Homo sapiens: one gene and its partners. The protein of the gene in region 5 purifies or fractionates together with the protein of the main gene of each other region. This does not show direct contact. Each region holds a gene or a part of one and is shown on either strand. Other genes may lie near its edges. The genes, in order: MCOLN1, STX5, KIAA2013, SLC30A6, CSGALNACT2, TMX4 and TMEM214.

The links.
Region 1: the proteins of CSGALNACT2 (region 5) and MCOLN1 purify together in Homo sapiens (affinity purification with mass spectrometry; 2 studies listed by BioGRID and IntAct, with this or other methods). This does not show direct contact.
Region 2: the proteins of CSGALNACT2 (region 5) and STX5 purify together in Homo sapiens (co-immunoprecipitation; 3 studies listed by BioGRID and IntAct, with this or other methods). This does not show direct contact.
Region 3: the proteins of CSGALNACT2 (region 5) and KIAA2013 purify together in Homo sapiens (co-immunoprecipitation; 3 studies listed by BioGRID and IntAct, with this or other methods). This does not show direct contact.
Region 4: the proteins of CSGALNACT2 (region 5) and SLC30A6 purify together in Homo sapiens (affinity purification with mass spectrometry; 2 studies listed by BioGRID and IntAct, with this or other methods). This does not show direct contact.
Region 6: the proteins of CSGALNACT2 (region 5) and TMX4 purify together in Homo sapiens (co-immunoprecipitation; 3 studies listed by BioGRID and IntAct, with this or other methods). This does not show direct contact.
Region 7: the proteins of CSGALNACT2 (region 5) and TMEM214 purify together in Homo sapiens (co-immunoprecipitation; 3 studies listed by BioGRID and IntAct, with this or other methods). This does not show direct contact.

Annotation. Positions count from the first base shown.
Region 1 is NC_000019.10:7,525,624-7,529,123, forward strand, and holds part of MCOLN1 (mucolipin-1), read left to right. Parts: intron 1-815; coding exon 816-983; intron 984-1,137; coding exon 1,138-1,303; intron 1,304-1,896; coding exon 1,897-2,005; intron 2,006-2,240; coding exon 2,241-2,337; intron 2,338-2,534; coding exon 2,535-2,634; intron 2,635-2,973; coding exon 2,974-3,080; intron 3,081-3,197; coding exon 3,198-3,347; intron 3,348-3,477; coding exon 3,478-3,500. UniProt on the Homo sapiens protein: Nonselective cation channel probably playing a role in the regulation of membrane trafficking events and of metal homeostasis. Acts as a Ca(2+)-permeable cation channel with inwardly rectifying activity.
Region 2 is NC_000011.10:62,822,052-62,825,551, reverse strand, and holds part of STX5 (syntaxin-5), read left to right. Parts: intron 1-12; coding exon 13-129; intron 130-212; coding exon 213-269; intron 270-434; coding exon 435-516; intron 517-986; coding exon 987-1,093; intron 1,094-1,264; coding exon 1,265-1,386; intron 1,387-3,500. UniProt on the Homo sapiens protein: Mediates endoplasmic reticulum to Golgi transport.
Region 3 is NC_000001.11:11,921,260-11,923,427, reverse strand, and holds part of KIAA2013 (uncharacterized protein KIAA2013 precursor), read left to right. Parts: coding exon 1-792; intron 793-2,168.
Region 4 is NC_000002.12:32,172,364-32,175,863, forward strand, and holds part of SLC30A6 (zinc transporter 6), read left to right. Parts: intron 1-1,699; coding exon 1,700-1,784; intron 1,785-2,955; coding exon 2,956-2,998; intron 2,999-3,500. UniProt on the Homo sapiens protein: Has probably no intrinsic transporter activity but together with SLC30A5 forms a functional zinc ion:proton antiporter heterodimer, mediating zinc entry into the lumen of organelles along the secretory pathway.
Region 5 is NC_000010.11:43,176,445-43,179,944, forward strand, and holds part of CSGALNACT2 (chondroitin sulfate N-acetylgalactosaminyltransferase 2), read left to right. Parts: intron 1-3,500. UniProt on the Homo sapiens protein: Transfers 1,4-N-acetylgalactosamine (GalNAc) from UDP-GalNAc to the non-reducing end of glucuronic acid (GlcUA). Required for addition of the first GalNAc to the core tetrasaccharide linker and for elongation of chondroitin chains.
Region 6 is NC_000020.11:7,995,762-7,999,261, reverse strand, and holds part of TMX4 (thioredoxin-related transmembrane protein 4 precursor), read left to right. Parts: intron 1-3,190; coding exon 3,191-3,236; intron 3,237-3,500.
Region 7 is NC_000002.12:27,035,965-27,039,079, reverse strand, and holds part of TMEM214 (transmembrane protein 214), read right to left. Parts: intron 3,111-3,115; coding exon 3,028-3,110; intron 2,594-3,027; coding exon 2,488-2,593; intron 2,376-2,487; coding exon 2,294-2,375; intron 2,004-2,293; coding exon 1,902-2,003; intron 1,520-1,901; coding exon 1,378-1,519; intron 1,291-1,377; coding exon of another isoform or gene 1,279-1,290; exon of another isoform or gene 1,266-1,278; coding exon of another isoform or gene 1,188-1,265; intron 1,049-1,187; coding exon of another isoform or gene 935-1,048; coding exon 843-934; intron 597-842; coding exon 548-596; intron 379-547; coding exon 265-378; intron 34-264; coding exon 1-33. UniProt on the Homo sapiens protein: Critical mediator, in cooperation with CASP4, of endoplasmic reticulum-stress induced apoptosis. Required or the activation of CASP4 following endoplasmic reticulum stress.

The DNA of each region.
Region 1 (3,500 bases), on a different chromosome or scaffold from region 5:
GATAGTTCTCCCTCCCCCATGCCAGACCCTGTGCTGGGCTCTGGGAACCCCAAGATGAATCAGACCCAGCCACTGCCCTAAGTGCTTACTTCATGTTTTGGGCTGACTTTAGCATGTCACCATGCCTCTAATTTTCCCTCTGAAAAGGGACCCAATTGTCCAGGCATGGTGGCTCATGCCTGTAATGCCAGCACTTTGGGAGGCTGAGTTGGGTGGATCATTTGAGGCCAGGAGTTTGAGACCAGCCTGGCCAACATTGCAAAACCCCGTCTCTACTAAAAATACAAAAATTAGCTGGGTTTGGTGGCAGGTACCTGTAACTCAGCTACTCAGGAGGCTGAGACAGGAGAATTGCTTGAACCCAGGGGGTGGAGGTTGTAGTGAGCTGAGATCATACCATGGCACTCCAACTTGGGCAACAGAGTGAGACTCTGTCTCAAAAAAGAAAAGAAAAGGGACCCAGTCATGGTACTTACCCTGAAAGTTTGGGTTTAACACAGAATCGGACATCCAGTAAACATTTAATGAACGTTAGTCCCTGCAGTGAGATAGATGAGTCCCCACCCTGTGTTGTACGGGGGAGGACACAGTGGTGGGCGTGGCATGGAGCTTATGCCAGGAGGTGGGGTGAAATTAATCAAAGCAAAGAAATGCACAAGTGAAATCCGTGTTTGTGGCCCAAGTTAGCAGGGCCCTGCCCCACCCCAGTGGACATCTGCAGGGCCCTCCCTGTCCTCTTCCAGGGCCTGTGCCCTGAGGGAGATACACCCCAACCCCCATCCTAGCCATGCCAACCTCTACTACCCTCTCCCCAGCTCATCCTGTTTGGGCTCAGTAATCAGCTGGCTGTGACATTCCGGGAAGAGAACACCATCGCCTTCCGACACCTCTTCCTGCTGGGCTACTCGGACGGAGCGGATGACACCTTCGCAGCCTACACGCGGGAGCAGCTGTACCAGGCCATCTTCCATGCTGTGGACCAGGTGCTGGTGGGCGGGCAGGTGCTGGTGGGCAGGCAGGTGCAGGTGGGCGGGCAGGTGCAGTTGGGCGGGCAGGTGCTGGTGGGCGGGCAGGTGCAGGTGGGTGGGCTGCAGAGAGCGGGCCGGACTCACAGGCCCTCCCCTTCTCTGCCCACAGTACCTGGCGTTGCCTGACGTGTCACTGGGCCGGTATGCGTATGTCCGTGGTGGGGGTGACCCTTGGACCAATGGCTCAGGGCTTGCTCTCTGCCAGCGGTACTACCACCGAGGCCACGTGGACCCGGCCAACGACACATTTGACATTGATCCGATGGTGGTTACTGGTGAGTGGGCAGGACGAGGCTTCACTGTTGGGAGCCTGAGCTGCTGGGATTAAAATCAACAGCTGTGGCTGGGCACGGTGGCTCACGCCTATAATACCAGCACTTTGGGAGGCTGAGGAGGAAGGATTGCTTGAGGCCAGAAGTTTGAGACCAGCCTGGGCCACGTAGGAAGACCTTGTCTCTACGCACAAACAAATTAGCTGGGCGTGGTGGCGTGCCCCTGTGGTCCCAGCTACTCAGGAGGCTGAGGCAGGAGGATCGCTTGAGTCCGGGAGGTTGAGGCTGCAGTAAGCTATGACCACGCTGCTGCACTCCACCCTGGGTGACAGAGTGAGACCCTGTCTCAAAAAAAAAAAAAAAAAAAAAAAACAAGTATGCTTAGTGTGAGTGTGACTCTTGCCACGTAGAAAGCACCAGATGTTATATTTTAATATGGCTCATTCAGTAAAACATCCGCAGGCCCAGAGAGTGCCAGGCCTGTAGGAATGACCCAACCCTGGGGAAGCACAGGGAAGAAGGCCACTGGGGACTCTGGGGAGACCAGCCTGGCCTCCCCGGCCCCCTGAGGCCCTTCCCTGACTCCCTGTCCTTAGACTGCATCCAGGTGGATCCCCCCGAGCGGCCCCCTCCGCCCCCCAGCGACGATCTCACCCTCTTGGAAAGCAGCTCCAGTTACAAGAACCTCACGCTCAAATTCCACAAGTACTGCCTGCTCACTCGAGGGGGGCCCAGGGTGGGGGAGGCAGCACACTAGGCACTCTCACCCCAGCAACTACTTCCCTAAGGTGGGGACAGGGCCCCCCCGCCCGCGCTGGTGCCTGCTGGGTGAGCACTTCCCCTGCCAGCTGCAGAGTCAGCACGTGGCAGGGGACGCTGGCACTTGGGGCCGGAAGGGACCCGAAGACGCCCCTGACCCTCACCCGAGCCTCCTGCCTAGGCTGGTCAATGTCACCATCCACTTCCGGCTGAAGACCATTAACCTCCAGAGCCTCATCAATAATGAGATCCCGGACTGCTATACCTTCAGCGTCCTGGTGAGGCCCCCCGGGAACCCACAGGGCTCCTGAGTTCCAGGGCAGGGACCTGGTCAGGGAGTGTCTTGGGAGCACTGGCCAAGGGCAAGCGTGCGGGTGATGAGGGAGGGAGCCCGGGGTCTGTCAGGCCACCTGTCATGTGGACCTTGGGGCTTGGGGCTGCCAAGGTTTACTCTGCCCCCAACTGGCCCCCACAGATCACGTTTGACAACAAAGCACACAGTGGGCGGATCCCCATCAGCCTGGAGACCCAGGCCCACATCCAGGAGTGTAAGCACCCCAGTGTCTTCCAGCACGGTGAGCCCCTGAGCCCCAGACCAGCACTGACCAGGGGCCCTGGCCTGTCCTGGGATTCCCCAAGCCCCAGATCAGCGCTGCCTGGGGGCCGTGACCTCCCCAGGAATCCGCTGAGCCTCAGATCAGCACAGACCAGGGACCCCGTCCTGTGCTGAGATCCCCCAAGCCCCAGACCAGCACTGACCGGGGTTCTTGACTCACCCCAAGCAAGCCCTGAGCCCACTGACCAACCAAAACCAGCCGTGCAGCCCCCTAGGTCTCCAGCCTGGCCTGGCACCAATGCTAGCCTCCCAAGGCTCCATGCCATCCTTGGCCCTACCCGCTCTGCCCTCCCCGCAGGAGACAACAGCTTCCGGCTCCTGTTTGACGTGGTGGTCATCCTCACCTGCTCCCTGTCCTTCCTCCTCTGCGCCCGCTCACTCCTTCGAGGCTTCCTGCTGCAGAACGTGAGGCTTCTGCGTCATGTGTGCTGGTGTCCTCCCCGCCTGGCCCTGGGGCGATAAAAGCCAGGGCTTTGAGGGTCCTGTGCCTGGTCAGGCCCTCACCCCGCCTGCCTTCTGCAGGAGTTTGTGGGGTTCATGTGGCGGCAGCGGGGACGGGTCATCAGCCTGTGGGAGCGGCTGGAATTTGTCAATGGCTGGTACATCCTGCTCGTCACCAGCGATGTGCTCACCATCTCGGGCACCATCATGAAGATCGGCATCGAGGCCAAGGTGCGTCCTGCCAACACCCTGGGCCCCAGGTCCCATCCCTGCTGTCAGTGCCTATCCGGGGCCATATCCTCCCCCAGGCCCCCCAAAGGAAGGGCTGGGCCAGATAGGTTGACGCAGCTCCCACCCGCAGAACTTGGCGAGCTACGACGTCTG
Region 2 (3,500 bases), on a different chromosome or scaffold from region 5:
CTCTTTTACCAGGACATCAATAGCCTCAACAAACAAATTGCTCAGCTCCAGGATTTCGTGAGAGCCAAGGGCAGCCAGAGTGGCCGGCACCTGCAGACCCACTCCAACACCATTGTGGTCTCCTTGCAGGTGGGACCTGGGGAGGAAGGGAGGGAGGCAAAGAGGAAGAATGTGGAGCCTTCTTTGGTTGACCCTCTCTCCTTTTCTTCTAGTCGAAACTGGCTTCTATGTCCAATGACTTCAAATCGGTTTTAGAAGTGAGGACAGAGGTGAGAACAATCTGCGTAGGAGGGGTAGGAATATGGGAGTAAAGATCCAAGAGGGAAATGAAGAAGGGACAAGTTCTACAGGGTCATGGGGCCAATGGTGGGAGTCTCTTTAACATGCCTGCTTTCTAGTGGCTTCAGGTCCTTTGCGTTTTTCCCCAACCCCAGAACCTGAAGCAGCAGAGGAGCCGGAGAGAGCAGTTCTCCCGGGCACCTGTGTCAGCCCTGCCCCTTGCCCCTAACCACCTGGGTAAGTCACAGGTAAAACGGGGAGCCCTGGGAGGTAAGGTTACTTACTCTGGTTGTGATGGCATCCTCTAAAGGCACGGGTTGGGTAGGAGAGTGGAAGGTCAAGGAATTTTCTAGGCTTTATCTCTCAGAGGCCAAACCAGATGGTTGAGATTCGTGATCCACATTTAGACTCCCACATTCTCACTGTTGGGGTGAATTCAGTTATATTCAGAATAATGATAATTTCTAATTTTTTTTCGTACACTTTATTCACATTCTCTCATTTAATTTTCACAACCACCCTTTGAGAAAGCAACTATTATTATCCCCCATTTTACAGGTGAGGAAACTGAGGCTCAGAGAGGTTAAATGACCTGTCCAGGGTCACAAGGCTAGTAAGTGCTAGAGCTGGGATTCAAACCCAGAGCATGTGGGCTTTGAACCTGCTTTTAACTGTTAAGGTGTGCCACATCCTGTTTTCTCCCCCAGGCGGTGGTGCTGTGGTTCTGGGGGCAGAGTCCCATGCCTCCAAGGATGTCGCCATCGACATGATGGACTCTCGGACCAGCCAGCAGCTGCAGCTCATTGACGAGCAGGTACCCAGGCTCTGAACTAGGTAGAATCAGCTTCTCCATTATCCTCTGTGGTTCCCGAGAGAGTGTTTGGAGTGTGCCATGGGCAGAATGGCAAGCTGGGAGGGTTGTAAAAATGCAGGTCTGACCCTGAAGAAGCTGTTGGTGCTCATGTGCTCTCTCCCTCTCCTGAAGGATTCCTACATCCAGAGTCGGGCAGACACCATGCAGAACATTGAGTCGACAATTGTTGAGTTGGGCTCCATCTTTCAGCAGTTGGCACACATGGTTAAGGAACAGGAGGAAACCATTCAGAGGTGAGATACACTCTCTCGCCCCAAACAGAGGAGCTTTCTCTTCCCCGTGGATTGGCATCTTAAAGTCCCCAGGGACTGCTTGATGCCTTTTGGAAGATAGAGTGAATTCTGCCCACCCATGGGACCCAGTTCACCTGCTTCCATCCACCCAACAAGTTTTTATTGAGCACCTGTTCATGTGAGGCACTGTTCCAGGTGCGGGAGATACAGTGGCAAGTAGAACAGTAAAGTCTGTCTGGAGCTGCTTTGTAGCATGTGTAAGTGTATGGAATTTGATAGGGCAGATGAGGACAGCTGTGGAAAAGAACTGACAAGGCTGGCACAGTGACTCACACCTGTAATCCCATAGGCAGCACTTTGGGAGGCCGAGCAATGCAGATCGCTTGAGTTCAGGAATTCAAGACCAGTTTGGGCAACAAAGCAAGACCCTGTCTCTACAAAAAAATACAAAAACTAGCTGGGCATGGTGGCATGGGCCTGTAGTCCCAGCTACTCGAGAGGCTGAGGTGGGAGGATGGCTTGAGCCTGGGAGGCAGAGGTTGCAGTGAGCCAAGATCGTGCCACTGCACTCCAGCCTGGGTGACAGAGCCAGATTCTGTGTCAAAAAAATAAAAATAAAAAATTGACCAACAAAATTTCAGGGAGTAATAAAGGCTGTATACAGAGTTAAAATAGGATGATGTGTTAAGAAAGTAATGGATGGGTACGGTGGCTTACACCTGTAATTCCAGCACTTTGGGAGGCCCACACAGTCAGTTGAACTCAGGAGTTCAAGACCAGCCTGGGCAACATGGTGAAACCCCATCTCTACAAAAATAAAAAAATTAGCTGGACATGGTTGCGTGTGCCTGTGGTTCCAGCTACTCGGGAGGCTGAGGCGGGAGGATGACTTAAGCATGGGAGGTTGAGGCTGCAGTGAGCCATGATGGAACCACTGCGCTCCAGTCTGAGTGACAGAGCAAGACCCCATCTCAAAAAAAAAAAAGAAAGTGACTAAGTAGGTATATCAGATTGTGTGGTAGGGAATGCTGCTCTGAAGACATGACATTTAAGCAGAGACTTGAATGACAAGAGGGATCCAACCAGGCAAAGAACAGAGAGTGTTCTAGGCCGAGGAGACAGCTAGAGCAAAGCCTTGTGATGGGACAGTCTCACCATAGCAAGAATCAAGAAGGCCTGCGTGGCTAGAAAGTAATGAACAGGGATAGAGAAGTACAGGGTGTACTGGAGGGATGTAGGCAGAGGCCCAACAATGGGCTGGCCTCTCTGTTCCTCTGGTGCCTCCTGCTACTACAAGAGTTTTTATCTGCTCCTCCTCTGTGGTGCTTAGCATTCAGTCAGTCAGTTATGGGAATATAGCAGTGGACAAAAGAGACAAAATCCTTGCCCTTGTGGAACGTGTATCCTAATAGGGAGATAGATGTGAAAAAGTCATAATAAATAGTATGTTAAAAAAAAAAAAGGTCGTAAATGCCAAAAAAAAAAAAAAAGATAGTCAACACAGGATAAACTAATCAGGAGTGCCAGGTTTGGAGGGAGGTAGGCCCTATTAAGAAGGTGGCATCACACTTGGGAGAAGGTGAGGAAATTAGCTACATAGACCCTGGCAAAGGCCCGCAGGTGACAATATGTTTGATGAGTTAAAGGACAGCAGAGACTACTGCAGCTGGGATCAATGAGGAAGAGAGTTGTACAAGGTGTGGTCAGAGGGGAACTGTGAGACCTCTTGGGACCATTGGTAGGCTTTAGCTTTTACTCTGAGTGACATAGGGAGCCATTGCAGGGGTTAGTTTTTCTGTGTTTGAGACAGAGCCTTGCTGTGTCGCCCAGGCTGGAGTGCAGTGGCATGATCTTGGCTCACTGCAACCTCCACCTCCTAGGTTCAAGTGATTCTCATGCCTCAGTCTCCCGAGTACCTGGGACCACAGGTGTGCACCGCCATGCCCGGCTACTTTTTGTATTTTTAGTAGAGACAGAGTTTTGCCACATTGGCCAGGCTGGTCTTGGACTCCTGGCCTCCAGTAACCTGTCCACCTTGGCCTCCCAAAGTGCCGGGATTACAGGTGTGAGCCATCACAACTGGCCAAATACATTTAACTTTATTTATTTATGCA
Region 3 (2,168 bases), on a different chromosome or scaffold from region 5:
CTCTATTACATGCTCTCCTGCTCGCCAGCCCCACTGCTCAGCCCCTCCCTGAGCCACAGGGAGCGAGACCAGATGGAGTCGACGCTCAACTATGAAGATCACTGCTTCAGCGGGCACGCCACCATGCACGCCGAGAACCTGTGGCCGGGGCGGCTGTCCTCCGTCCAGCAGATCCTGCAGCTCTCTGACCTGTGGAGGCTGACCCTCCAGAAGCGTGGCTGCAAGGGGCTGGTGAAGGTGGGTGCCCCAGGCATCCTGCAGGGGATGGTGCTCAGCTTTGGGGGGCTGCAGTTCACAGAGAACCACCTCCAGTTCCAGGCCGACCCCGACGTGCTGCACAACAGCTATGCATTGCATGGCATCCGCTACAAGAACGACCATATCAACCTGGCCGTGCTGGCGGATGCCGAGGGCAAGCCCTACCTACACGTGTCCGTGGAGTCCCGTGGCCAGCCTGTCAAGATCTATGCCTGCAAGGCAGGCTGCCTGGACGAGCCAGTGGAGCTGACCTCGGCGCCCACGGGCCACACCTTCTCGGTCATGGTGACACAGCCCATCACGCCACTGCTCTACATCTCCACCGACCTCACACACCTGCAGGACCTGCGGCACACGCTGCACCTCAAGGCCATCCTGGCCCATGATGAGCACATGGCCCAGCAGGACCCCGGGCTGCCCTTCCTCTTCTGGTTCAGCGTGGCCTCCCTAATCACCCTCTTCCACCTCTTCCTCTTCAAGCTCATCTACAACGAGTACTGTGGGCCTGGAGCCAAGCCCCTCTTCAGGAGTAAGGTAGGAAGCCGCCATCTGGTCGAAACCCGAGGCCTTGGCCTTGCTCTCAGCCCTGTGTCTCGGAAGGGGCTAGCCTGGCGAGGGGGGGTGAGGCCTGGGCAGGAATGGGTGTCCTGATGCCCTCAGCCCTTGACACCAGAGAGCGCGCACAAGTGTTTTGAGAGGAGACGACGAGGAAGGGAAAGCTGGAAATCCAGGTGTGAATTGATGGTCTTCTGGCTTTCCAGGGCAGCCCTCCCCTCCTCCCGCATCATAAATCTCAGCATTTAAAAATAACTGCAAGCTGGGTGTGGTGGCTTGTGCCTGTAGTCCCAGCTACTTGGGAGGCTGAGATGGGAGAATCCCTTGAGCCCAGGAGTTTGAGGCTGCAGTGAACTATGATTGTGTCATTGCACTCTAGCTGGGGCAACAGAGCAAGACCCTGTCTCAAAAAAGCAAAAAACAAAAAAGCAAATAAAAGTAAAAAAAAAAAAAAAAAAAAAATTAGAGGCAGGGCCTGGTGGCTCATGCCTATAATCTCAACACTTTGGGAGGCCGAGGTGGGAGGATCCTTCGAGCCCAGTAGTTTGAGACCAGCCTGGGCAGGATAACGAGGACTTGTCTCTACAAAAAATTTAAAAATCAGCCAGGCGTGATGGTGCACGCTTGTAGTCCCAGCTACTTAGGAGGCTGAGGTGGGAGGATCACTTGAGCCCAGGAGTTTGAGACTGCAGTGAGCTGTGATTACACCATTGCACTCCATCCCAGGTGACAGAGTGAGACCCTGTCTAAAAATAATAATAATGAGGCTGGGTGCAGTGGCTCATGCCTATAATCCCAGTACTTTGGGAGGCTGAGGCGGGCAGATCACCTGAGGTCAGGAGTTCAAGACCAGCCTGGCCAACACGGTGAAACCCCATCTGTACTAAAAATACAAAAATTAGCTGGGCATGGTGGTGCATGCCTGTAATTCCAGCTACTCGGGAGGCTGAGGCAGGAGAATTGCTTGAACCCGGGAGACGGAGGTTGCAGTGACCCGAGATCATGCCAGTGCACTCCAGCCTGGGTGACAGAGTGAGACTCTGTCTCAAAAAAATAAAAAATAAATAATAAATAATAATAATAATAAAATAAAAATAACTGCAACAAGCCCCTAGATTGACTTGAAGCCTCTGTCTGAACTGCTGGCGGGATCCCCAGCTTCCCCCCATGTGCCTGTTCATGGCATGCAGAGGTCAGCCCCTTGCTCCAGGCCTCGGACCAGAGTGGCCATCTCGTTAGCATAGGACACAGGACAGAAGCATTGCCCTCAAGTTTCCTGAGACATGTTTGCCCCTGGAAGCGGTGATTTTGGCCATCATTGCTGCAAGACTGTCATCGGGGCAGCATCTTAGCAT
Region 4 (3,500 bases), on a different chromosome or scaffold from region 5:
TTATCATTTCCCTCCTTTTTGTTCTTTTTTTTTTGAGATGGAATCTTGCTAAATTATCCAGGCTGGTCTTGAACTCCTGGGCTCAAGGGATCCTCCTTCCTCAGCCTCTTGAGTAGCTGGGATTACAGGGGTACACCACCACTCCCAGCTAGTATCATTTTCTTTTATATGTTCTCAACTCTTTTGTGCTCCCCTTCCCTCTGTCTTAATTCCTGGAAAATCCCTAACCTTCATTAAGTTCACTTTCTTTCTACTCTACTTGCATCTAAGCAACTGAATGTAACCTGAGAGAAACAAAACCATGCGACTGGTCTCACTTTGAATTCATGATCAGACAGACCATTAGTGCTGCCTATTAAGTGCTGCCTATTAGTGCTCTTTCATTTTATATTTCCTTTGTTCATTCAATTTTCCAATTTCCTAGATGGCTGTTTCATACGATGTTCTTTCGTTTCTATCCTCAAGCTTCTAATACCTTCTTCATCCTCACCCTAACCTGATGATCTTGCTTCCTGTTTCACCAAGGGAAAAGAAGTAATCAGAAGAAAACTTCTACATCCTATCATTAGCACATCAGCCATCACTCCGCCTTCCCTCCTATTTCTCTGGACAAGCTTTCAGTTCTTCTCTATAAAGGCAATCCTTTCACTTGTTGCCTACTGAAAGATGATGTCCCTATAATTGTTCTGTTTCTTACATCATTGTTTTTCTTGCATCATGCATCATTCTCCTCTTTCTTGCATCGTAATTACATGTTATAAGTTCCACTCTCAGGGCTGCTTCATTTCTCAGCTTCCTTTTGTAGCAAACCTACTTGAAAGAATTATCAGTACATTGTGTTCACCTTCTCTTCTCCTCATCTTTATTAAACACATACCAGTTAGGTACTTGTGCCCACTAATTCACATAAACAGCTTTTACAAGGTAACCAAAAATCTCTGTGTTGCCAAAATGAAGATTTTTCCTTATTTCTCACCTTACTTGGTTGATGTTGAACAGCCAAAGTCAGTACTTTTTTTTTTTTTTTTGAGACAGAGTCTCGCTCTGTCGCCCAGGCTGGAGTGCAGTGGCACAATCTCATCTTACTGCAACCTCTGCTTCCCTGGTTCAAGCGATTCTCCTGCCTCAGCCTCCCAAGTAGCTGGAAATAGAGGTGCCTGCCACCACACCTGGTTGATTTTTTGTTTTAGTAGAGACGGGGTTTCACCATGTTGGCTAGGCTGATCTTGAACTCCTGACCTCCACCCACCTTGGCCTCCCAAAGTGCTGGGATTGCAGGAGTGAGCCATTGCACCTGGACAAGATTACTAACTTTTAGGAACATCATCATGCCCTTTATTCAGATTCACCAGTTGCTTACATTTGGCCCCATTTGCTTCATCGTTGTCTCTATAATATGTACTTATAGAGACAAAACGATATGCATATGTATGTGTATTTTTCTCAACTATTTGAGAATTTCTATGTCAGAATTTATTTTCTCTTGAACAACTCTCCTTCTGGAACTATTCTTTTAAACTTGTATACTGTAATAACTTAGCCGATGACAATTTTGGTAGATGTAGAAAGTGTGACACAGACTTTTTGAAGGAAGTTATGTTTATTCCTTTGAATATCAGAGTATAAATTGTAGCAACTTGAACAGACCCCGTGAAATTTATCACTTCTGTACACATAAGAGTGATTTTTATTTTCACAGTCCTGGAAGATACTGCTCTTTGGTGTAATAAACTTGATATGTACTGGCTTCCTGCTTATGTGGTGCAGTTCTACTAATAGTATAGGTATGTCACCTTTGTATTTTTATGGAGTTGTTATTTTTACTTTTATTTTTCTCATTGGAAATAAAGGTATATCTTACATAGAATATATTATTCTGAAATGTATATAACTCAAATGATTTAAATAAGGGACTATATTTAAAACTTCCCTGTAAACTGTAAACTTTTGTTCATTTGTTAGGATTGTAATTTTTTTTTAAGTTTTTTTCCTTTTAAAATATATTTTAAAACAGAAATGGGGTTTCGCCATGTTGCCCAGGCTGGTCTCAAAATCCTGAGCTCAAACGATCTACCCACCTTGGCCTCCCAGAGTGCTGGGATTACAGGCGTAAGCCACAATGCCTGGCCATTTTCATTTTAAATAAGCTGTTATTTTTTGAAAAATCATTAAATCTATCTGGAGATTTTTTTTTTTTTTTTTTTTTTTTGAGACGGAGTCTCACTCTGTTGCCAGGCTGTAGTGCAGTGGTGTGATCTTGGCCCACTGCATCCTCCACCTCCCTGGTTCAAGCGATTCTCCTGCCTCAGCCTCCCAAGTAGCTGGGATTACAGGCACGTACCACCACGCCTGGCTAATTTGTGTAGTTTTGGTAGAGATGGGGTTTCACCATGTTGGCCAGGATGGTCTCGATCTCCTGACCTTATGATCCACCCGCCTCAGCCTCCCAAAGTGCTGGGATTACAGGCGTGAGCCACCGTGCCTGGCTGGAGATTTGTTTTTAATATAATAGATTAAAACTTTAATTTATGCAGTTTGTAAGTTAGATTTTGAGGTTTGTTGGCTTTTCCTTAAAAAGGGAATTCTGTAATTTTTTTCTTATATCTTTTTATGTTTTTTATTGCATTGTTCTTTTGTTCAGTTATTCAAACAATACATTTGAAATAGCGCTGAGATTACAGAAGCAGGCAGAAAAATGGTAACAGGGCTTTTGAACATTCATTGCTTCATTTTTCCTAATGGAGAAATCAGGTTGGGAAGTAAGCTTTTCTACCAACGAACTTTGGCTACATATATTTATCAGATTTACTAGATAACTGCCAATATATGAGGTTGGCCCGTGACTCAAAAGTTTTTTTGATAATGGATACCCCTGGTAGAAATAATTTTGGTAACTTGCTGTATTTTTTTAGAGGGGTCAGTAATACTTTTAATCATTTTTTTGTTGTTTTGCAGCTTTAACTGCCTATACTTACCTGACCATTTTTGATCTTTTTAGGTAAGTTTTTAGGAAATCTTAATGTTTTGGAGCTAATAAGGAACTTGGTAGAAATGTGGTATAGCCATACAATTCAGCAATAAAAACAGCAACTACTGATATCTTACAAGAAAACAATAAAAACATTATGCTTTGAAGACAGTCATAAAGGACCACATATTTTATGATTTCATTTATATGAAATGTCCAAAACAGGCAAATCTATGGAGAGAAAAAGTAGATTATGAAGAAGTTTTCTTTGCTTAAAGGAAAGTAATCTACTAAATAAGTAAAATTATCAACATAGAACAAACACACAAACAACAATAATTAGAGACATAACAGTAATTAGAGAGCAGGTGGGGCGGCTCATGCCTGCAATTCCAGCACTTTGGGAGGCCGAGGCGGGTGGATCACTTGAGGTCAGGAGTTTACGACCAGCCTGGCCAACATGGTGAAACCCCGTCTCTACTAAAAATACAAATAGCCAGGCATGGTGGTGTATGCCTGTAGTCCCAGCTAC
Region 5 (3,500 bases):
CTTGTCTAGTGAACTGTTACACAAAATCCCAGTATTTAATACAAATGAAAGAAGACCTGCTCTTTCTAGCGCGTCTTGGAATCACACCTTAGTCATGCATTCCCCTAAGCCTAAAGATGGCCCATGAATAATTTGTTCTAACTATCCTGCATGCTCTGTTGTCCAGGCTGAAGAGCAGTGGCACAATCTTGGCTCACTGCAGCCTCTGCCTCCCAGGCTCAAGCGATCCTCCTACCTCAATCCCCAAGTAGCTGTGACCACAGGCGTGCACCACCACACCCAGTTAATTTTTTTGTTTGTTTTGTAGAGGCGGAGCTTCATTATATTGCCTAGGCTGGTCTTGAACTCCTGGGTTCAAGCAATCTGCCCACCTTGGCCTCCCAAAGTGCTGGGATTGCAGGCGTGAGCCACCATGCCCAGCCCCTAGCTTCAGTCTTACCCAGCAAAATATAAAGTGTCAAAGAATAGTTTAATAAAGCAGGCTGAAACCTGATTCCATGTCTTCTGATTCATTTAGGGCTAGCTACCTTTCTACAGCATAGAAGTCATAGAATATATTTTATATACATTCTAGGTCCATATCACATTCGTTTTTATAACCAGCCTTTTGTTTTGGAAATCCCCCCACCTTGTCTCCTTATCATTGTAACACTTGAATAATGGAAAATCAGGAAATAACAATAAAAGGGGCGTTAAATTAAACTGATGCTCTTTTCCTTGATTTCTTGCTTAGTTAAGCAAGCAGCATTTCACTATTCCTCAAAAATAGATTTGTGTACATTTTTTCAGTATCTTGAATGCTTTGAGTTCCTTATCTCTTTTTTATGACAATTTTATTGAGATATAGTTTACATATCATAAAATTTATTAATTTAAAGTGTACGGTTAACCAGGTCATGTAGCTATCACCACCATCAAATTTAGAGCATTTCACCCCAAAAAGAAATCCCATACCCATTAACAATCACTCCTCACATCCTACCAACCCTCTTTCCCCCCAAACTTAGGCATCTACTGGTCTACTTCCTATAGATTTGCCTCTTCTGGGAATTTAATAGAAAGCAAATTGTACAATATGTGGCCTTTTATGACTGGCTTCTTTCACTCACATAATGTTTTCAAAGTTCATCCATGTTGTGACATGTTAGGTACTTCATTCCTTTTTATAGCCAAAAAATGTTCTATTGTGTGGTTATACCACATTTTGTTTCTCCATTTGTCAGTTTATATGCATTTGAGTTGTTTCTACTTTTTGGCTATTATAAATACTGCTGCTGTGAACATTTGTGTTTAACTTTTTGGGTGGACATAGATTTTCAATTCTCTTGGACATATGCCCAGGACTCTGGCTGGGTCATATGGTAATCCTGTGTTTGACCTTTTGAGAAATTGCCACACCGTTTTCCAAAGTGGCTGCATCATTTTACATTCCCACCAGCAGTGTTTAGGAGTTCCAGTTTCCCCACATCCTCATTAATACATGTTATTATCTTTTTGTTTCTAGTATCACCCATGATAGTGGATGTGGTATTGATTGTGACTCTGATTATAATTTTTCTTATGATTAATGTTGTTGAGCATCTCTTGATGTGTTTATTGGCCATTTGTATATCTTTAGTGAAATGTCTGTTCAGATCCTTTGCCCATTTTAATTGGGTTATGGAGTTTCTTGGGCTTCTTGAATATGTACATTAATGTTTTTCATCAAATTTGGGAAGTTTCAGCCATTATAGTCATCTCTCAGTACCTGCATGGGATTGGATCCAGGATACCATGTGGAACCAAAATCCATGGTCGATCAAGTCCCTTATGTAAATATACATATTTTCATATTACCTGTGCATATCTGCCCATATACTTTAAACCATCTCTAGATTGCTTATAATACCTAATACAGGCCAGGCACGGTGGCTCACGCCTGTAATCCCAGCACTTTGGGAGGCCGAGGCGGGCAGATCACGAGGTCAGGAGATCAAGATCATCCTGGCTAACAAGGTAAAACCCTGTCTCTACTAAAAATACAAAAATTAGCCAGGCGTGGTGGCAGGCGCCTGTAGTCCCAGCTACTTGGGAGGCTGAGGCAGGAGAATGGCATGAACCTGGGAGGCGGAGTTTGCAGTGAGCCGAGATTGCACCACTGCACTCCAGCCTGGGCAACAGAGTGAGACTCCATCAAAAAAAAAAAAAAAAAACCCTAATACAATGTAAATACTATGTAAATAGTTGTTATATTGTATTTAAATTTTTATATTTATTGTTATTTTTTATCGTTTTTTTCCCTAATATTTTTGAACCATGTTGGTTGATTCTATGGGATGTGGAACTCATGCATATGGAGGGCTGACTGTATTTCTTTGAATACTTTTTCTGCTCCATTCTCATAGTTTTCTCCTTTGACACTCACTGTATGTATGTTGGTACATTTAATGGTATCCCACATTTTTCTTAGGCTCTGTTTATTTCTCTTCATTCTTTTCTCCCTCTGTTCTTCAGATTGCATAATTTCTATTGATCTATCCAAGTTCTCTGATTGTTTTTTCTGTTAGATCTACTGTTGAGCTACTCTAATGAATTTTTATTTCAGTTACTATAGTTTTTAACTTCAGAATTTCTATGTGGTTCTTTTGATATATATATAATTTCTTTATTAATACTCTATGTGATGAAACATTGTCATCTTCTGTTACTTCCTTAAGTGTGACTTCTTTTAATTCTTTGAACATACTTACAATGGCTGCTTTGGAATTTTTGTGTATTAAAGCTAATGTCTGGGCCCTAACACAGGCAGTTTTTGTTGCTTGCCGGTTTTTTTTTTTTTTTTAAGCGTATGTCACATCTTCTTGTTTCTTTGCATTCCTCATTATTTCTTTTTCGAAAACTAGACATTTTAGGTAATACACTGTGGCAACTCTGGATACTGATTTCCCTCTACCACCACGGCTTGGTTTTTTTTTTTCCTTGTTTATTTATTTATTGACATGGCTGGACTATTTTAACAAATTATTTCTTCCTCCTTCCCCGACCTTTTGGCAATATGAAGCCTCTGCTGTTGCTCCTCAGGGCCTGTGCAGTTATCCTAGGATGGCATTGGATTTAGCAGGGCTCTCTTTATCTCTTTCCATGCCTCCATTGGTATCACTCCTATTAGACTCCACTGACTGTTCACTAATTGCTGTCTTGTTTTTGACAATGCTCTGGGGCATAAATTGCTCCATAATCTGTCCCTACTAAATTGGGCCCTTTTGCAGGGATAGTTTTTGCAGCAAGTCTTTGAGATTTGTTCAGACCCCAGGAGGTATATTCTTACTATCTCTCTCTGTGGTTCTCTCTAGTAAATTAGCTGGCCTACAGTTTAGCTGTTGCCCTCCTGGAGTTACCAGCCTCCTCTTAATTGCTTACTACCAAAATCTCCATTATTTTCAAGAGGCTGGAACTTCTCTAAACTCTGAACTTCTCTACATTCTATTTTAAATAAAGTCAGTTCCTTAGGGAAGAACTTT
Region 6 (3,500 bases), on a different chromosome or scaffold from region 5:
GCAAACTGTATAATACTTGGTGAGGTAGATTAGGCCAAACCATAACAGCTTTTTCCACAGTTGGTTTTAGTTTTGAATGGATTGTCATATATATAGATAATTTTATGTTAGTATATACAAGTGTAAGAAATTTCCCTACTGAAAAAGGAGCAAATCAAGCAATATTTCAGGAGTAAATCATCTAGTGGCATCTATATTAATATTAAGGAAACACATAGCTTACTCTAAAAACAACTCTCACATTTCATTCTACAACCATTTGAGCACTGATTTAGCCAGATACTTTCCTAGGTGCTAGGTATTCAACACTGAACAAGACAGACATTCACCTCAGGTACAGAGAATCATAGTTGGGATGAGGGTGGATAAAAAACACAACAACATATTTTACAAAGATGGGATAGCTCTGGGGTTATGGACCTGCTCTTCTAGATGGAGGGAGTAGGAGACATTTCTCTGAAGGGACGCCTCTAGGTGAGATCTGAATGATAGAAGGAACTAGCTTAGGCAAAGAGCAGAGGGAAGATTATTCCCAGGAATGGGTATGGCATATGCATAAGCCCCAGTTTGGAAAGGAGCTTGGTGTACTTAAGGAGCAGAATGGTGACCAGGGTCAAGCATAGTGAAAGGGAATGTAGGATGAGCTGAGTAAGAGGGGCAGGCTGAAGCCAGGTCATGCAGGGCCTGTGGCCACAGGAAAGAAGTTGGAAGTGATCAGCACACACAAGGAGAAGGTGACCCTTAGGAGAGGAGATTGGAGAGGGCAAGAATGGATGAAGTGAGTTGAGGCTTAGAGTGGTAGCTTGTGTCAGGTGGCAGCAGTGGGGATGTGGGGATGGAGAGGCTGAGTGGATTTTAAATATGTTATGAAGGTAGGCTTGGCCAAGGTGAAGGAGAAGAAGGATTCATTAATAAAAACTTACAAGTTTCTGGTTTGAGTACATGATGGATCTTGGTACTTGTTATTGCCTTGGGCAAGAGAAAATTAAGGATTCTGTATAAATCTTGTTGGGTTTGAGATGCAGACTTTGTAGAACTGTCACAGTGGATGCTGTATTAGTCCATTCTTGCATTGCTATAAAGGAATACTTGAGACTGGGTAATTTATAAAGAAAAGATGTTTAATTGGCTCATGGTTCTACAGGCTGTACAGGAAGGATGATGCTGGCATCTGCTTGGCTTCTGGGGAGGCTTCAGGAAACTTATAATCATGGTGGAAGGCGAAGGGGAAGCACATAACATCACATGGCCAGAGTAGGAGCAAGAGAGAAGGATGGAGGTGCCACACACTGTTAAACAACCAAATCTCCTGAGAGATCACTCATTATCAAGAGAATAGCACCAAGTGGATGGTGCTAAACTATTCATGAGAATCCGCCCCCATGATCCACTCTCTTTCCACCAGACCCCACCTCCAGCATTAGGGATTACAATTTGTTAGGAATAATGCTTACAATTTTAAGAAATTGAACACTTGAACAAAGGATATTTAGCAAAGCAATTTTATTTTTGCGCAGAGAGGTGCCTTTTTGGCCAGTCGCCATGAGAGCACACTTGAACAAAGGAGTACGAGAGCCTTTATTTTTGACGCAAGTCTTGCCCCTGTATCCTTTTTTTATTGGCTGGGGTCAGGTGTATAAACTAATTTTAGTTGGCTAAACATTTGAATTTTTTTAGATAAGGTGGGCACATAGAAGAAAGAGGAAAGGGGAAAGGGTGTCTGTAGTGAGTCAGAAAGTTGTTTTTTTTTTTTTAAATAAGGAAAGGAATGTGAGTTGGTACTGATAATGGCTGGTATTGTGGCATGCCTGCGCATTTAACAAAGGCAGAAAGGAAAAAGGAAAAAAAGAGGGGGTGGTTAACTCTGAATTAAAAGATTGATTAGGCTATTTGAAGGGAAACCTTATCATATCTCACAAATTGAACATACGATTTGGGTGGGGATACAGATTCAAAGCATATCAGATGCATGGAAATGGGTCCCCATGAAGAATTCAGGAACACAAAAAAACCTACAGACAATGTTGAGGTGAGGGGAACACCTAGAAAGAAGGAAAAAGAGAAGAGTACTTGGGGATGAGTCATGGGCCACCCCCAAATTAAGAAACTGTGTTGAGAAGTCAGCCAAAGGAAACTGAAAATGAGTACCAGAGAGGCAACATGAAAACCAAGGTCTGCCATTTTCCAGAAGCCAAATGAGTGTTCAAGAAGAAGGGCGTAGTCTCTTGTATCCCATGTTACTAAGAGGCGAAGGGAGATCAGGTCTGAGACATGGACATTGAATGAAACATGGTGAGGTCATCATGGCCTTGACAATCTGTTCCTGTAGTGGTGAGGGTGGAAGCCAGATTTTAATCGATTAAAGGTACAGTAGAGAAGAAACAGCATGTGTAGAGTAATCTGGAGAAATTTATCTGTGAAGCTGGAGGGTCATGTGAGGTCCAGGGATACTCTTTTTAAAGGGTAAAAGAGAGTAGAGCATGTTCATATGCCAGTGAGACTGTTCTAGGAGAGAGAGAGAAGTTGCTCGTGCAGGAAGGGAGGATGAGAGAAAGAACCAAGTCCTAATAAGACAAAATGGATAGGATCCAAGGCACAAGTGGAGGAATTGGACTGTGATAAGAGAGTTAGACTTTTCCTGTCATAACAAGAGAAGGTGGATGCAGGTGGACACCAGGCTCAGATTTGGTAGTGGGAAGATGAGAGAAAGCACATGGTGGCTTCTGATTTCACAGTGACATATGAGGAGTGCTTGTTAGCTGAGTACATGGGGATGGGAAGATGTGTACGTTTTGAAGAGAAGGAAAAGGAAATGAGCTATTTTCTTAGAGCTTAGAAAGTGCTGGACAGTATTACGTGTCCACTTAGGTTTGGGACTATGAAGCAGAAAGAACTGTCATCTGGTTATGTGATGTTTTTTCCCTGGAGACATTCAGCTGCTCAGTGTTGAGATTTTTGCCGGGTAGGCACAATGAAAGGAGAAAGGGCCAAGGAGTTGGAATAGATTTACAGCAGAGTGATTCAAATGATAGCCACTGAATCTAAGCTCTGTAAGAACAGATATGAATCTGGGAGAGGGGGCAATATTTAGCAAGAAGTGGAGGGAAATAGACCAGTCCTCCTGACCTGATTTTCATTTTTTTTTTATAGTATATATGATCACTGTTTCTTCTCTTTATTTTTTTTTAAGGATGTCTGGAATGGCTGGTCTTTTTAGCATCTCTGGCAAGATATGGGTAAGTAATCTTAAATAAAACGTTTATATTTGCAGAGAGGTTAAGAATAAAAATACAGCTTTTAAGCAATAGGAAAACAAACATTTATAAGTACATTTATAATTTCACTTTTTTTCTTAAGCCATGCAACTACTCTCATGTGGGGTTTCCAGTGGTAATGTCGTCATGTAGAAGGGCATAATCTGAACAGTAACCTGTAACTACTGTGTCGAGGTCTTATTTTCTTAAATCAGTGGTGAAGTCTTTCATCCAAGCAAAACGGCT
Region 7 (3,115 bases), on a different chromosome or scaffold from region 5:
CAGCCGAGGACCCTGAACCTGCTGCAACAGGCCCTGGTGGGAGGGGAGCAGGAGACAGTTGTCAGAAGCGAGGGGCTGGTCTTTGCCTCTGAGGGCAGACCTCAAGCCAGGCCTTCCCGAAAGAGCGTCAAGCCTTCACATTATCCTGGAGGCAGCGGGGGGCTCCAGACAGGTGGGGCAGGAATGTGATACAGGCCCAACCCAGGTGTGCTGAGACAGAGATGTAAGATAGCGTGTGGGCTGGAGAGGACCGGGTGCCAGCACCTTGCAGGCCATGTCACAGGTGACGACATCCTGGTTGTTACTGCTACCCTTCCTCAGCAGCTCCTGGTTGGTAAGCTTGAGGGACTGAATGGTTTCTTGCAAAGACTTCTGTACCTATGGACAAGAAAGGTCTGGCCTGTGAGGGAATCCAGAGCTTCCATCCTGCTTCATTTTCCATGCCAACAGGGTCCCTTCTCAGGGAAGGGACAGTGGCTGAGGAGCCCCCACTCAGAACCTAGAATCCAGACAGGGCTCAACCTGCCACGTCCTCCCAGCTCCTCACCTTCTTGGGAATCTGCTCCCAGGAGCTGAGCAAGTGCTCCAGCAGAAGGCTGTGGGGAAAGCACAACCCCCTAGTCAGGTGGCTCGCGCAGCCTCACCCATCCTCCTGTCCTCCATTAGCCCTGGCTCCTTCAGGCTGAAAGACCCTCCACCTACCACCCACAGAGCAGCAGCTTCCTAGAGGCTGCTCCAGCAATGTTCCCACTCAGCCTGAAAGGTGTCAGGCCATGGGACAGTGACCCAGGCTCCCCTTCTGCTTCTAGCACAGGGACAGGCTGGCCTCCCACCCCACCTGCCTGGACTGTGACAGGTGCTTAGGGTACAGCTGCCTCCAGACGCTGGCACTGAGGGGGTCCACCGTCAGGCACTCAGTCAGGCTGCTCAGGAGCTGCACAGCACGACAGAGGGAGAGGCTGCTGGGGGCATGGGGCTGGCAGAGGCGGGGAGTGCTAAGAGGTGATCCCCTTCCCGTAAGCAAGGCCATCCAGGCCGCACATCCACCCTAAGGGGTGGAGAAACAGTGTCAAGACTCCAGAAAGCTCTCTGAGAGGCTGTAAAGCAGGAGGCTGGGGCTCCTGAGCTAGAGCTTTGAGCTCAAAGATCACTATCTGCAAGAGACGGGCATCAGAAACCACCCAGACCTGAATGTGCTGTCTCTTGGGATCCATCTTCTGAGGGTGAAGCTCGAGTGAGCGGGGCAGGCAGCTGTCAACAGGGAGCTAAGGAAAAGCCTCAGAATGGGCTCTGTGAAGGCAAGGCCTTTGTCAGCAGATAGGGACCGCTACAGCTGACCCCTGGGGAAGGAGAAAAAGCCTCCCACCATATCCTCACCTCTTTCTTCATCTCAGGGGGACAGCTAGGGGTGGCTCTGGACAGGAAAGAAGGGAAGTAGGTATGCAGGGTGGAATCCGGCTTTGCTCCAAATGCCAGCACTTTCAGTCGGGGGTAGAGCTGACACAGCTGCTCCTGCAGGCTGGGTGGGGTGGGGAGGAAAGACAGGCATAAGCTATAAGTGGAGCTGTATGATATGAACCTTTTGCTTGCTTCAGAGCCCATGCCTGCCTGTGGGGAATAGCCACTGAGGACCTTGCAATGGCTCTGAATCTTTTTACTCAGAGACTCCTTGGAAATCTGTTGAAAGCCATGGACCCTATCCCTAAGAAAATGCCCATATGCCAATCACACTCAAGGGTCCATATAATTTCAAGGGGTCACTGTTCCCTTGAAACCTACTCTTGAACTTCCAGGTTGCAAATCTCAGATCTAGGATGGCTGGGGAAGGAGAGACGGGAATATGTAGTGTGGTTCTGGTGCTGTGGTCCCTTCTCAGCAGGTGTGCCCCAGAGCAGTCCTACCTGGGTGTCAGGGAGTTGTTCGGCATATAGGCAAAGTCCAGAAGTGGGAAGAAGTCCTTGGGGCCAATCATGCCGAAGCCCTTGGTAAGGTTGGGATGCATCCTGTGGGGATGAAGAAACAGGCTCGCTGGACACCACCACCCATGCCAGCTGTTTTGGCCATGACCCCAGCTAAGCCAACATCTAGGAAAAAGGGTATAAACTCTACCCCATCTGCCAGCCCTTAATAGCTCCCTCTTCTTCCTTCCTCACCATCACATTCTAAGGTGGTGGGAGAAGCTGGTCCTGATTTTCCTCATATCCATGGAGACCAAGATCATAGCCTCCCATTTTGCTATAACAGCCACTTGGGACACCCTGAGCCTTCCCCTTGCTGCCCTCCCATTACTCACAGGAGCAGCCGATCCAGGTATGTGATGGCAAAGGGAGACAGAGACTTGATGCCCAGCACAGGCAGCATGATCCCCAGCCACACTGCAGGGGTAAAAGTCACGAGGGAGGCCTCAGGCTTGCACCTACTGGGGGCATCAAAGAGGAGTTTTCCAGCTCCGAGACCCTCCCTCTTTCTTCCCTATTTCCCTGTTACCTTTCAGTCCCTCGGTGAGGTTGGCAAAACCTGCTTGACCCAGGGCCCACATGATGGTGAGACACTTTGCTGGTCGGCTCTGGTGGGACCTCAGCAGTTCCAGGAACTGAGGAGACCGGTGGGGAAGGCAGATTGGGATAGGACAAAACACCAGGAGCACCCCCCAAAGCCAGGAGGGAAGGGAGATGTCAACTGGAAGAGGGAGGACAGGCCGAGCAAGAGTGGAGCACTATGGCCACGTGGTGCAGGTTCTGTTTGTGGGCTTCGCCCATACTCTGCCATTTACTGGATGACTGAGCCTAGGAAAGTTACTGAACTCCTCTGTGGCTCAATCTTTTCATCTATAAAAATGGGAAATAATAGCAGTACCTTGCTCCTATGTTTCCAGAGCACACACACAGGATAGGTGCTAATAGTGTTACCCATTATTACTAGGCTTACAGGTCTTCCACTATCCCAAACCTGAGTCCAACAACATAGATTCTGCCCAGCCTCCCCAGTCCTAGCTTCCTAGCATCCCCACCATCACTGAGAGCTCACCTTGCCTAGGTTTGCCGTGGCAATCTTGGGCTTGTCTTGCAGGATGGCCTGGATACAGATGCGGTAACCATGTAGTGACTCCCCTGGA